Regions from separate parts of the Homo sapiens genome. Here regions 1, 2 and 3 are each linked to region 4. The links come from fine-mapping of genetic effects on gene expression. A gene starts in region 4. Each other region holds a variant in brackets. All regions are shown on one strand. Distances are between the middles of the regions.

Region 1 (2,687 bases), 44 kb before region 4:
TCACCTTTGTAAATGAACTTTATTCCAGAAACAGATATTCACACATTACCACAGAGGAAAGCTTAAAATTATAAGACTTGTTGGTGAGGCATGGAGGATTTTTATAGATCATTAAAGCACAGCAGACATTCTGGAGCAACATATCTCTCCCACGTGCAAGTCACAAACAATGGGTGTGTATGTATTCATGTGTTTGTAGGTGCACACACAAACTTGTATCCAGAGTGAAGGAACGAAGAAGCAAATCAGGAGATATTTAAAGTGTCCTTCCTACTATAGATTTTTTTTTTTTTTGAGTTGGAGTCTCACTGTTGCCCCGGCTGGAGTGCAGTGACGTGATCTTGGCTCACTGCAACCTCCGCCTCTTGGGGGGTTGTCATTGTTGAGATGAGACATGCCACTTTGGATACCTGTATTAATAGTGCTGAGGATGGCTTAATTGTACAGCAATAGCATAATAAGTATTTATAAAATTTTTAACAGTAAGTATTTAAAGTTAAAATAAAAGTGTAAGAATATATTACAGTTGGATTTCTAATGTCTTTATAGAATCAAACACTGGACTAAGTTATGAGTAAAAAATAAAATTGAATGGAAGAAGAAAAGGAATATTTATGTTATGAATTTAAAATAAAAGGAGGGCCAGGCTCGGTGGCTCACGCCTGTAATCCCAGCACTTTGGGAGGCTGAGATGGGATCACTTGAGGCCAGGAGTTCGAGATCAGCCTGGCCAACACGGTGAAACCTCGTGTCTACTAAAAATATAAAAAATTAGCCAGGCATGGTGGTGGGCGCTTGTAGTTTCAGCTACTTGGGAGGCTGAGGGAGGAGAATGGCATGAACCCAGGAGGCGGAGCTTGCAGTGAGCCGAGATTGCCCTACTGCACTCCATCCTGGGCAAAAGAGTGAGACTCCGTCTCAAAAAAAAAAAAAAAAATTAGCCTAGTATGGTGGCACATGCCTATAATTCCAGCTATTCAGGAGGCTGAGGCATGAGAATCACTTGAACCCAGGAGGCAGAGGTTGCAGTGAGCCAAAATTGAGCCACTGCATTCCAGCCTTGGTGACAGACTGAGACTCTGTCTCAAAT[T/A]AATTAATTAATTAATTAATTTAATTAAATAAGATATAAGCAAACTCTGTGAATAAATGAAGTTGGCATGTTAAATGGCACTGCCAGGACAACCTAATGGTAAGAGACTTTTATCTTTGAAAGAGATATAAAGGATGATAATTGGCTAATATTTAAAAGGCTATATCATAAAAGACAAAGACATGATTATTTTGGAAAGAGGATTGGAATAGAATAGCATTCTTGGCCAAGAAGAAGAAATGGACTTCATGAAGCTAATCCAATATGCATGGAAGCTCATCCATGACAGATGAGAATTGGTTGAGGGGATAGGAAGAGGTAGGGAGGACCCAGTTTTTTTTTTGAGATGGAATCTCCCTCTGTTGCCAAGGCTAGACTGCAGTGGTATGATCTCAGCTCACTGCAACATCTGCCTCCCAGGTTCAAGTGATTCTCCTGCCTCAGCCTCCCAAGGAGCTGGGATTACAGGTGCCTGCCACCACGCCCTGCTAATTTTTTATGGTTTTGGTAGAGATGGGGTTTCACCATGTTAGCCAGACTGGTCTCGAACTCCTGACCTCAAGTGATCCGCCCGCCTTGGCCTCCCAAAGTGCTGGAATTACAGGCATGAGCCACCGAGCCCAGCCCTGAAGTGCTTTACTTTTATTCTCACACAAGGTGCTCATAACATTCCAGTTTGATAAGGATGGCATACTTTCTGCTCCAGAGAAGTTGTGTGACTTTCCCAAAGTCACCCAGGGAGTGGTGGGGAAGCTGAGGGTAAAACCCTTGTGCTCCGGCTCCTGAGTATATTCATACAAGAAATTCCTGTCTATGATAGGATGAAAAGATGGATGGTAACTATCATCTTTGCCCAGGAAACAGCTGATGGTAAAGCCAATGATGCTAACATTGGAAATTCTCTAACAGAATTTTTCATTCAAGATTCTGAAAGTTTCTCTTACTTCATAAAGTTTATGTTAAAATAAAATTTAAATATTATTTATAAATGCCAACTACATCCTGTCACTCTCCTTCTTGGATACTTACAAAAATATGTACGTTTGGAACATTTTGTCTCATTTTGCATTAGCTTCCCCTATCTTTATTAATTATCAGCTCTGTAATCTTAGGTTAATTACTTAACATTTCTGAGTCACACTCCTCTCATTTGTAAAGGGGGTAATAATTTTGCAAAGCTCCTAGAGTAATTATGGGTATTACATGTTTGGCAAGGAAAGAGTACTCAATAAATACCAGGTGGTGTTATTATCAAAGTATCACGTGACATAATCTTTGATGTCTGTTATAGAATTAAACTTTTTTTTTTATTTAAAGTTCTCCTATAGGCACATCTGTGGATGACAATGCTATATTCATAACACATGTAGAGCTTTATTAAAGTTTTTCTCAATTAAAAAGTTAAAACTATAAGCTCATATATAGGTGGATTTTTTTTATTTTTATTTTTTGCTATGACACTTGTTCTTTCTATTTCTCCTCTCTCTTTAAGGAAAAAGAATGCACTAGTCCTTGTTAGAATGAAAGACATTTCTACAACTGGAAATACCCTAATTCCCAGTCAGTCCTCATCACACAGAGAGATTGCAGTTCTCTC
Region 2 (2,687 bases), 28 kb before region 4:
ATGCCTGGCCATCAGAGGGCTCCAGCAGAACAGCCCCTACCGATGCATAATGGTTTACCTGCAGCCTCCCCCAGCCACAGCCTCCCCAACCGCAGCCTCTCCCCAGCATTTTGCCAGCATGCGCTTACCCATGCCTCACACCCCTCCACATCCCCCCAACACTGCTTTGCTGGCCCACACATGCCAGAAGACCTTGTCTCTCCTCCCCTGCCAGTGCATGCTCATCCTACCATACCCCCAGCTGATGTGTGGGCAGCCTGCTATGCTGGCATGAATGCACACAGGAATACTGGCAACCTCATCCCCACTGGTGCCCTGCCCCTGCTGTACTGCTACCATGCACCGCCAGCAGGTTGCTGCCACCCTGCTCCTTCTGGAGCCCCACCCCAGCTGACACATGGGCACACGGCCATGCTGCCACAGCTGCTGTCACATAAAAGTGACGATGGATCCTGCTGCCACCACCCCAACAAAGAGCTTTGGCTGGCATTCCCCCATCGGAGTGTTGTGGACAATATAGAGCATGAACACTTTGGCCCCTCCAGTGCAGCAGATGCCTAACCTTGAAAGACCAGAGAACAAAGCGGGGGGGCCCAATGCCAGTTCCTCAGAGTTAGAGTATGAAGCCTAGGAGTGCAGGGCTGAGCCTTTGCTCCCTATAATCTTACAGAGACAATGCCAGTTCACTAAACACCACAATCACATCCTCCAAGTGCATCAAAGAAGATAAAAGCAAAAAACAACCCATCCAAAAAGTAGCAATTTCAAAGACTGAAGGAATATCAGCCCACACGGATGACAAAGAAACAGCCCATGAACTCTGACAACTCATAAAGCCAGAATGTCTCCTTACTTCCAAACAACAGCACTAGTTCCCCAGCAATGGTTCTTACCCAGGCTGAAGTGGCTGAAATGACAGAACTAGAATTCACAATATGAATAGAAATGAAGATCATCAAGGTTCAGGAGAAAAAGTCAAAACCCAATCCAAGGAATCTCAGGAATACAACAAAATAATACAGGAGCTGAAAGACAAAATGACTATTTCAAGAAAGAAATATTCATCTGATACAGCTGAAATACTCACTTCAAGAATTTCATAATACAATCACAAGTATTAACAGCAGAATAGACCAAGCTGATGAAAAAATGTCAGAGCTCAAAGACCAGTTCTCCAAATTAACTCAGTCAAAAATAAAGAAAAAAGAATAAAAAAGAATGAACAAAACCTCCAAGAAATATGGGATTATGTAAAGAGACCAAATTTATGATTCATTGGTATCCCTGAAAGAAAGGGAAAGAAAGAAAGCAACTTGGAAAACATATTTGAGGATATCATCCGTGAAAATTTCCCCAACCTCATTGCAGACGCCAACATTTAAATTCAGGAAATGCAGAGAACCCCTG[T/C]AGGATACCAGACAAGATGATCATCCCCAAAACACATAGTCATCGGATTCTCCAAAGTCGAAAATAGAGAACAAATGTTAAAGGCAGCCAGAAAGAAGGGCTAGGTCACCTATAAAGGGAACCCCATCAGGCTAACAACGAACCTTATAAGCAGAAATACTACAAGCCAGAAGAGATTTGAGGCCTATATTCAGAATTCTTAAGCAAAAGCAATTCCAACCAAGAATTTCATTTCCAGCCAAATTAAGCTTCATAAGTGAAGGAGAAATAAGATCTTTTCAGATAAGCAAATGCTAAGGGAATTAGTTACCACCAGACCTCTCCCTTACAGGAGGTCCTTAAGGGGGTGCTAGATATGGAAAGGAAAGACTGTTAGCAGCTACCACAAAAACACACTTAAGTACATAGACCATTGACACTATAAAGCAACTACACAATCAAGTCTGTATAACAATCAGCTAACTTGATGATAGGATCAAATCCGCACAAATCAATGTTAACCTTGAGTATAAATGGCCTGAATGCCCTAATTAAAAGGCACAGAGTGGCAAGTTGGAGAAAGAAGCAAGACCCGAGTGTATGCTGTCTTCAAGAGAACCTTCTCACATGTGATGACACCCATAGGCTCAAAGGCAAAGAGTTGGAGAAAAATCTATCAAGCAAACAGAGAAGTGAAAAAAGCAGAGGCTGCTATTCTAATTTCAGACAAAATTGACTTTAAACCAACAACAATCAGAAAGGACAAAGAAGGGCATTATATCATGTAAAGAGTTCAATTCAACAGAAGACCTAACTACCCTAAATACGTATGCACCCAAAATAGGGGCACCCAGATTCATAAAACAAGTCCTTAGAGACCTACAAAGACTTAGATAACCACACAATAATAATGGGCAACTTCAACACCCCACTGACAGTATTAGACAGATCATTGAGGCAGAAAACTAACAAAGATATTTAGGACCTGATTGACACTTGATCAAATGGACCTAATAGACATCTAAGAACTTTCTACACCAAAACAATAGAATACACATTCTTCTCATCTGCACAAGGTACATACTCTAACACTGACCACACAATCAGCCATAAAACAATTCTCAGCAAATTAAAAAAAAAAATCATACCAACCACAGTCTTGGACCACAGCACAATAAAAATAGAAATCAATACTGAGAAGATTGCTCAAAACCAAATAATTGCATCTAAAGTAAACATCCTGCTCCTGAATGACTTTTGGGTAAACAACGAAATTAAGGTAGAAGTCAAGAAATTCTTTG
Region 3 (2,687 bases), 35 kb before region 4:
AATGTCCTACTTTCTAGGCAGCATTGCAAGTGCATGGTATTTCATATGTCTATTGTTTTAGGCACTGAAAGGCCGGAAGAAAAAGGCTTGCTCTTCCATTGCGCCTCTGCATTTCAGGGAGCAGATTCTGTAGAGTGCTCCAAAATGATAATGAAGTCAATGATGAAGCAACGGGGACTTTAAGTAGTTAACGTCCCTCTGTAAGTGCCAAAATCACTGTATCAGGGATTTGTCCACACAAGGAATTCAGCTTTTTATTTCTTACAAATAATGTGCTGCCATGAAGAGAAACACAAATACTCATTCTGAAATACTCTATAGCAAAATCTGCAAAGCTTAACATCTGCAAATTTTCTCCTTAACATCTATTTTTCATATGCTCCATTGCTCCTTTTTATTTTTGAATAATAAAAAAATGCAAAAGAAAATAACAGCAAATTAAGCAGAGATCCAGAATTGGCATGCAAAATACCTGGTGTTTTCAACCAACATTTATCTTCACCCCATTGTGGAGAGCTCAATAAATGCTATTTGAATATGTTATCAATCATCTAACATATTAGCGTGGAGAGATGATGCCAAACTGCTTTCACCTTTAAAATACCTAATTCTGGAAAGGACACGTGACTGTACATAAAACAACCTCATTTTCCCCCATTAATTAGACCTGGGCAGATCATTTAATGGCAGGAAATTATGATGGAGTTCATTTTATCATTTAGCAGTTCAATTATACAGCAATTCACATATATAGGCATATATGTGTTACTATATATGCATAGATATATATTATTAACTTATGTCTTGCCATTGAACTGAGAATAAAATCCAATGTCCTCACTGTAAATTCAAAGGTCCTTCATGATTGAGCCCTGGTGTATCTTTCTGACTTCACTTCCGACCACTCTCGTCCTCCCTCCCTGTGTTCCAGCCACACTCACTTTCCTTCTGTTTTTTGAACACATGCAGCTCATTCTGCTTATGCGCTTTGCAGCTGCCTGTTCCACTGCCTATAACATCCTCACCTAATACGGCATGTAGGACTTTGCTCAAATAGGTCTCTGCTCTCCCTTGGCCCTCTGTGTAGCAGCAGCACCCTTCTTCATCACTGTATCACTACTAGAGCAATTATCCAAAATTATCTTATATAGCCATATTCTTTTGTCTGTGCCTACTAAAATGTAAGCTCCTTGAGAAGTCAAACCTTGTTTCTTTTATTCACTCTTACTTTCTCAGCACCTAGGATTTTTTTTTAATAAAATGCATTTTAATTACTATATGTTCTTCAATAATGATTTGGAATATAGAGAAAACTCAAGGGAAAAATCATTCATAATCTTTTCTTTCTACTGTAAGTTCAGTTAATTCAGATGTATTTCCTTCCAGTATTTTTCCTCTATTTAAATTATAATGTTTATTCCAACTCGCATCTTACTGTTTCTTAATGCTTATGTCTGCCTATGTCAGAATCATCCTGACTCATTTGAGTGCCACAACAATCCTG[T/C]GGAACAGCAAAACCAAGCTATTATTAACAAATTACAAATAAGGAAACTGAAACTCATGAAGGCTAAATGTCTTTCTTGCGCAATGTCACCCACTCTGAGTCTAGGTTTGGCTCATCTCTCAACTTTATTGTCCAGAATTTCTATTCATAAATGATCTGCTCATTTTTCCTCACAAAGCATGACCTTCTTTATCACCATCCCTTCATTCCATTGATACTAAATCTCTTTTCAGCTACTTAAATCTTTCCCTTTATATCCTGCCTCTTTTGATAAATCTGGACAATCTCAATTCTCTATACTTTTTCTCTTAATATGTATTTACAATTCAGATCTCTGTCATCATTTCACACTTGGCATATGATATCTAAATAGCTCATAAAAAATTAATGGAAGTATTCTGTCTAATTCAACATGTATTTCTTCTTTGCAATCCCAGTGCCTATATCTTCTGATGTCTGTCCTCATAGTTCAACTGAATCATATGGATAATAAGAACCATATTTGGTTCATCTTGTTTCCTTCCTCCAAACCATGCCCATGTGTCTATACATACTTAAAAAATGGATCATTCAACATATGTTTATACAGCTCCTTTGTACCAGGCGTTTTTTAAGGTCCTGAGGATACTGCAAATAAATAAAACTAAAATCTCCCTGTTCTCTTTGCATTTCCATTATGGTAATTTTACTAAAAAAAATGGCATCAAAATGTATAAGTGTTAAAATAAAGAGTGGTAAAAAGAACCTTGAGCTCAGTATTGAGAAGAGGGTAAATCTAAGTTCAAAGGTTTCACAGAGGAGATGGCAATTAATCTGGATCTTGGAGGACAAGTTGGAATTCACTACATAAAGAGGAAGGCAAAGTTCATCCCAGGCACCGGGAACATCATGTTAAACGTAGGCATAGGGTGTGAAAGAGAAGAGTACGGCAATGGTGAAAAGTCTGGCACAGAGAGTCATAGGTTGCTTCATTAATCTATACATTTCCAGTTCTCTATTAGATGCAGTGAGTCTTCAACTGACTTGGGCTTTGCCAGGAGCCTATTATCACCCAGAGTATAAATCTTCCTTCTTTGTCCTCATGTGAATGCCTGGAAAGGCAATAATAGCATCGCAAACTCAACATATTTAACAAAGGTGACCTTGTCAGACACGTGTTGACAGTAACCAGGCCAAAGTATTC
Region 4 (2,687 bases):
AGGGAAAAAGTACTCAGGCGATGGTCCCACAAAAGCTCTCCACCCCAGCCTTATTTCCTCCTCTTAGTGTAAAAGAACTCAGGAGGTGGGCGGGCCCCACTGCCACAGCACTACAGTTAGAGCGGCTGCTCCGGCTTATTCTCTCATTGCGGCATCTAGGATCCAGAAGTGAAAAGAACTTTTCCTAGCCTAAGTTTACATTCGTCGAATAGACAATGTTACAACAATAAGAGGAAGGCAGAAGGGAAGGAAGAATTCCCCTCTGCCAAGTATTTAAGTGGCGCTTGGTTTATTCCAAGTCCCCCCGGGAAGAAACACAGCGCTTCGTCCTCAAGTAAGAAATAGAGGCATTATTCACATCCTTGGGTTGAAAAATAAGCATTTTGGGGCTCGCAGGCTTCTGCAAAGCCAGCAAGCACCGCGCTGGGGAGCTGCAGGCCGCCATCAGCAATGGATTCCGGATTTCCCTGGTCTCTGGCAGGCGCGGCACCTGTCTGAGCCAGGGGAAGTTGGGCTGCAGGACTCGCGGTCTCCAGGACACCCGCGGATCCCCACACTGTCCATGCTTGAGTGCGTGCGTGTCTGTCTGTGTGTGTGTGTGTGTGTGTGCGTGTGTGTACCTAAAACAAAGCACTCACTGAGATGACTTTGGAGGGTGCTTAACAGACAGGGCGAGACGCGCCTAATGGGGACGCAAGGCCTGGGATAGCAGGAAGGGAACGAAGAAGTATCTCTTTCCAAGCAGGTCCTGGTGGCTGGGAGCCCGAGTCCACGTGGAATCCGAGGGAACACACGGAGCTCGCTCCCTAGTTCCGCCCAATCCCTCCAGCGAGCCCCAGGAAGCCGCGCGGGTCCCTCCTGCAGCCGATGCAGAGCGAAATCCCCGCTTACCTTGACTGAGCGCTAACACCAGCAGCAGCGGCAGCGGCGCGGCCCCTGTCCGTTCTGGCCCCATCCTGGGTCTGACCGGGGGACCGTAGTTGCGCTGGGTTTGCAGAGGTTTGCAGAGGATACCCTTGGCCGAGGGATACGAGAACCTGCACACTCTAGAAGCTGTCCAGAGGGCTTCTCTCCCCCGCCCGGTGAGAGCAGGGAAAAGTTTCTGGGCAGCTCCTGCAGCGCCGAGGGCCCGCCCCAGCCCGCCCCTCCTGATTCCGCAAACACCGGATCTGCTCCGGCCGCGCCCCGCCCCACCCCGGCCCTGCGGCCCCGCGGGCTGCACCTCGGCTCGTCCACACGCGGGGCACCGCACCTTGGCTCCCGTACAGCGGCCCAGCCCCGGCAGCCTGGAGGCGGTGGGGATGGGGATGGCGCCCTGGCAGGCTTTCCTGCCCTGGACGGGACGGGTGGGCATATCCGACGGGCGAGCGCCCGCCCTGGCACCACTCCGCCCCCGCAGCCTGTCGCCAGCACGCAGGAGATGCCCCAGTCCCCGGGAGAACGTGGCCCCTCCGCAGCCCTTGGCAGCGCCCGGCTCCTGGCAGCGGGTGCCGAGGGCACTAGCCCTAAACCACAGTGCCTAGGGGCTGCGCGGTGCGTCCCTTTCTCTGTTTTTCCTAAGTGGGTGGAGAAAGGGACAAAAATAAGCGCAGAATGACCAGGTTAGAAACTAACTCATCAGGAAAGAAGATCTGCTCACAAGTTATGATTATCCAAGGTGATATTTAAGCAATACCTGCTGCAAGAGCTGTGTGTGTGTGTGTGTGTGTGACAGAGAGACAGAGAGAGAGAAATCATCATTACTTCCTCTCCTCCGAGATAATTAAGAGCTGATTTAATGACTGAGTTTAGGAGATTAACTTCAAGGCCAGAGAAAAGGCTGAGAGCCCATACATGCACTTGTGACTCTCCCTGTCTACATTACACCATGACATAGACTGTGACCATTTTCTTCCATTATTTCAGTCTCACATCTGGAAAGAGAACATTCTATATCCGAGATTTTTAGTTAAAAACCTAAGAAATAGGATATTAATTTTTCTTGTCTGAATCTTATGTTTTATCCAAAAGTTTGGCCACAAATTTCCAGCACATTGCTGAAACCAGAATTCTTCCAGTGACTACTTTTGTGAAGGAACGAACTGTTTTCATAAATCAAGCTTAAGGAGTTATGAGTCTAATAATCATCATTATTGTCATCATTCCAGATCTTCATGGAATGCTACTATGAGCTGAATGGGATGCCTGAGATACTGCCTCTAGGAAGCAAAGTGGCTCAAGGTGGGAAGGACTTAATAATTCATAAAAATCAAGCTCTTCTCTTTACTATAGATAGGGCTGATGTGTCACATTGTTAAAGTATTAAATTGGTATGCATCAGATGTTGCTGCTGATGGCTTATGACTAATACCCTTTGAACCCAAATTATATAGTCCCAGGCTCTTTCCTGTTTTCTTATCAGTCACTTACTGGCTGCACTTACTCACCTTGACAAACACCTGAAGGCATTTTTTTCTGAATTGTCTGGGGTACTCACCTGCTTACTAAAACTCCGGCTATCACCTGAGAGCTCTTAGGTGGCTGCTCACTAACCGGTGACACGATTTTGACGCTCCTTACAGACTTTTTGAAGGAAGTCAGCCAGGTTTCAGGGAGATGAATATCTGTCTGTTTCCTTCTGACTCACTGAAATGTGAGTAAGTGTTTGGAACAGACCTGTGTTTGGGAGGCAGGACACTTCCTTTAAT

Direction of the effects. Positions count from the first base shown, and alleles are read on the strand shown. Sizes are in standard deviations (SD) of each study's normalised expression. Not every link is listed here.
For the expression in Th1/17 cells of the gene that starts at base 1,072 in region 4, A is the low allele of the variant in region 1 and T is the other (large effect, 1.0 SD a copy in Schmiedel 2018).
For the expression in platelets of the gene that starts at base 1,072 in region 4, T is the low allele of the variant in region 3 and C is the other (large effect, 0.83 SD a copy in CEDAR).

Evidence for each region. PIP is the estimated chance that this variant, and not a neighbour inherited with it, causes the effect. A credible set is the group of variants that fine-mapping cannot tell apart.
Region 1: its variant is the best candidate, but not a certain one, in a credible set for the expression of ITGA2 in Th1/17 cells (Schmiedel 2018, PIP 0.83).
Region 2: its variant is the best candidate, but not a certain one, in a credible set for the expression of ITGA2 in blood mononuclear cells (TOPMed, PIP 0.70).
Region 3: its variant is the best candidate, but not a certain one, in a credible set for the expression of ITGA2 in platelets (CEDAR, PIP 0.78).

What each region holds. Positions count from the first base shown.
Region 1 is chr5:53,032,015-53,034,701 of GRCh38, reverse strand. All of the region lies in intron 2 of ITGA2 (integrin subunit alpha 2), which reads right to left. All of the region lies in intron 1 of LOC124900974 (a long non-coding RNA gene), which reads left to right. Among named protein-coding and RNA genes, the nearest start is that of ITGA2-AS1, 43 kb to the right of the region's middle. The variant T/A (reference allele first, on the strand shown) is at 1,091.
Region 2 is chr5:53,015,313-53,017,999 of GRCh38, reverse strand. All of the region lies in intron 1 of ITGA2 (integrin subunit alpha 2), which reads right to left. Among named protein-coding and RNA genes, the nearest start is that of ITGA2-AS1, 26 kb to the right of the region's middle. The variant T/C (reference allele first, on the strand shown) is at 1,408.
Region 3 is chr5:53,023,017-53,025,703 of GRCh38, reverse strand. The region is part of intron 1 of ITGA2 (integrin subunit alpha 2); the gene reads right to left. It overlaps LOC124900974 (a long non-coding RNA gene), which reads left to right. Exons shown (of 2, transcript XR_007058767.1): 2 at 1-2,157. Among named protein-coding and RNA genes, the nearest start is that of ITGA2-AS1, 34 kb to the right of the region's middle. The variant T/C (reference allele first, on the strand shown) is at 1,505.
Region 4 is chr5:52,987,737-52,990,423 of GRCh38, reverse strand. ITGA2 (integrin subunit alpha 2) reads right to left here and starts at 1,072. Exons shown (of 30, transcript NM_002203.4): 1 at 892-1,072. The coding sequence starts at 955. ITGA2-AS1 (ITGA2 antisense RNA 1) reads left to right here and starts at 138. Exons shown (of 4, transcript NR_186583.1): 1 at 138-334; 2 at 2,148-2,220. RefSeq lists a silencer at 1,119-1,268 and an enhancer at 1,733-2,687.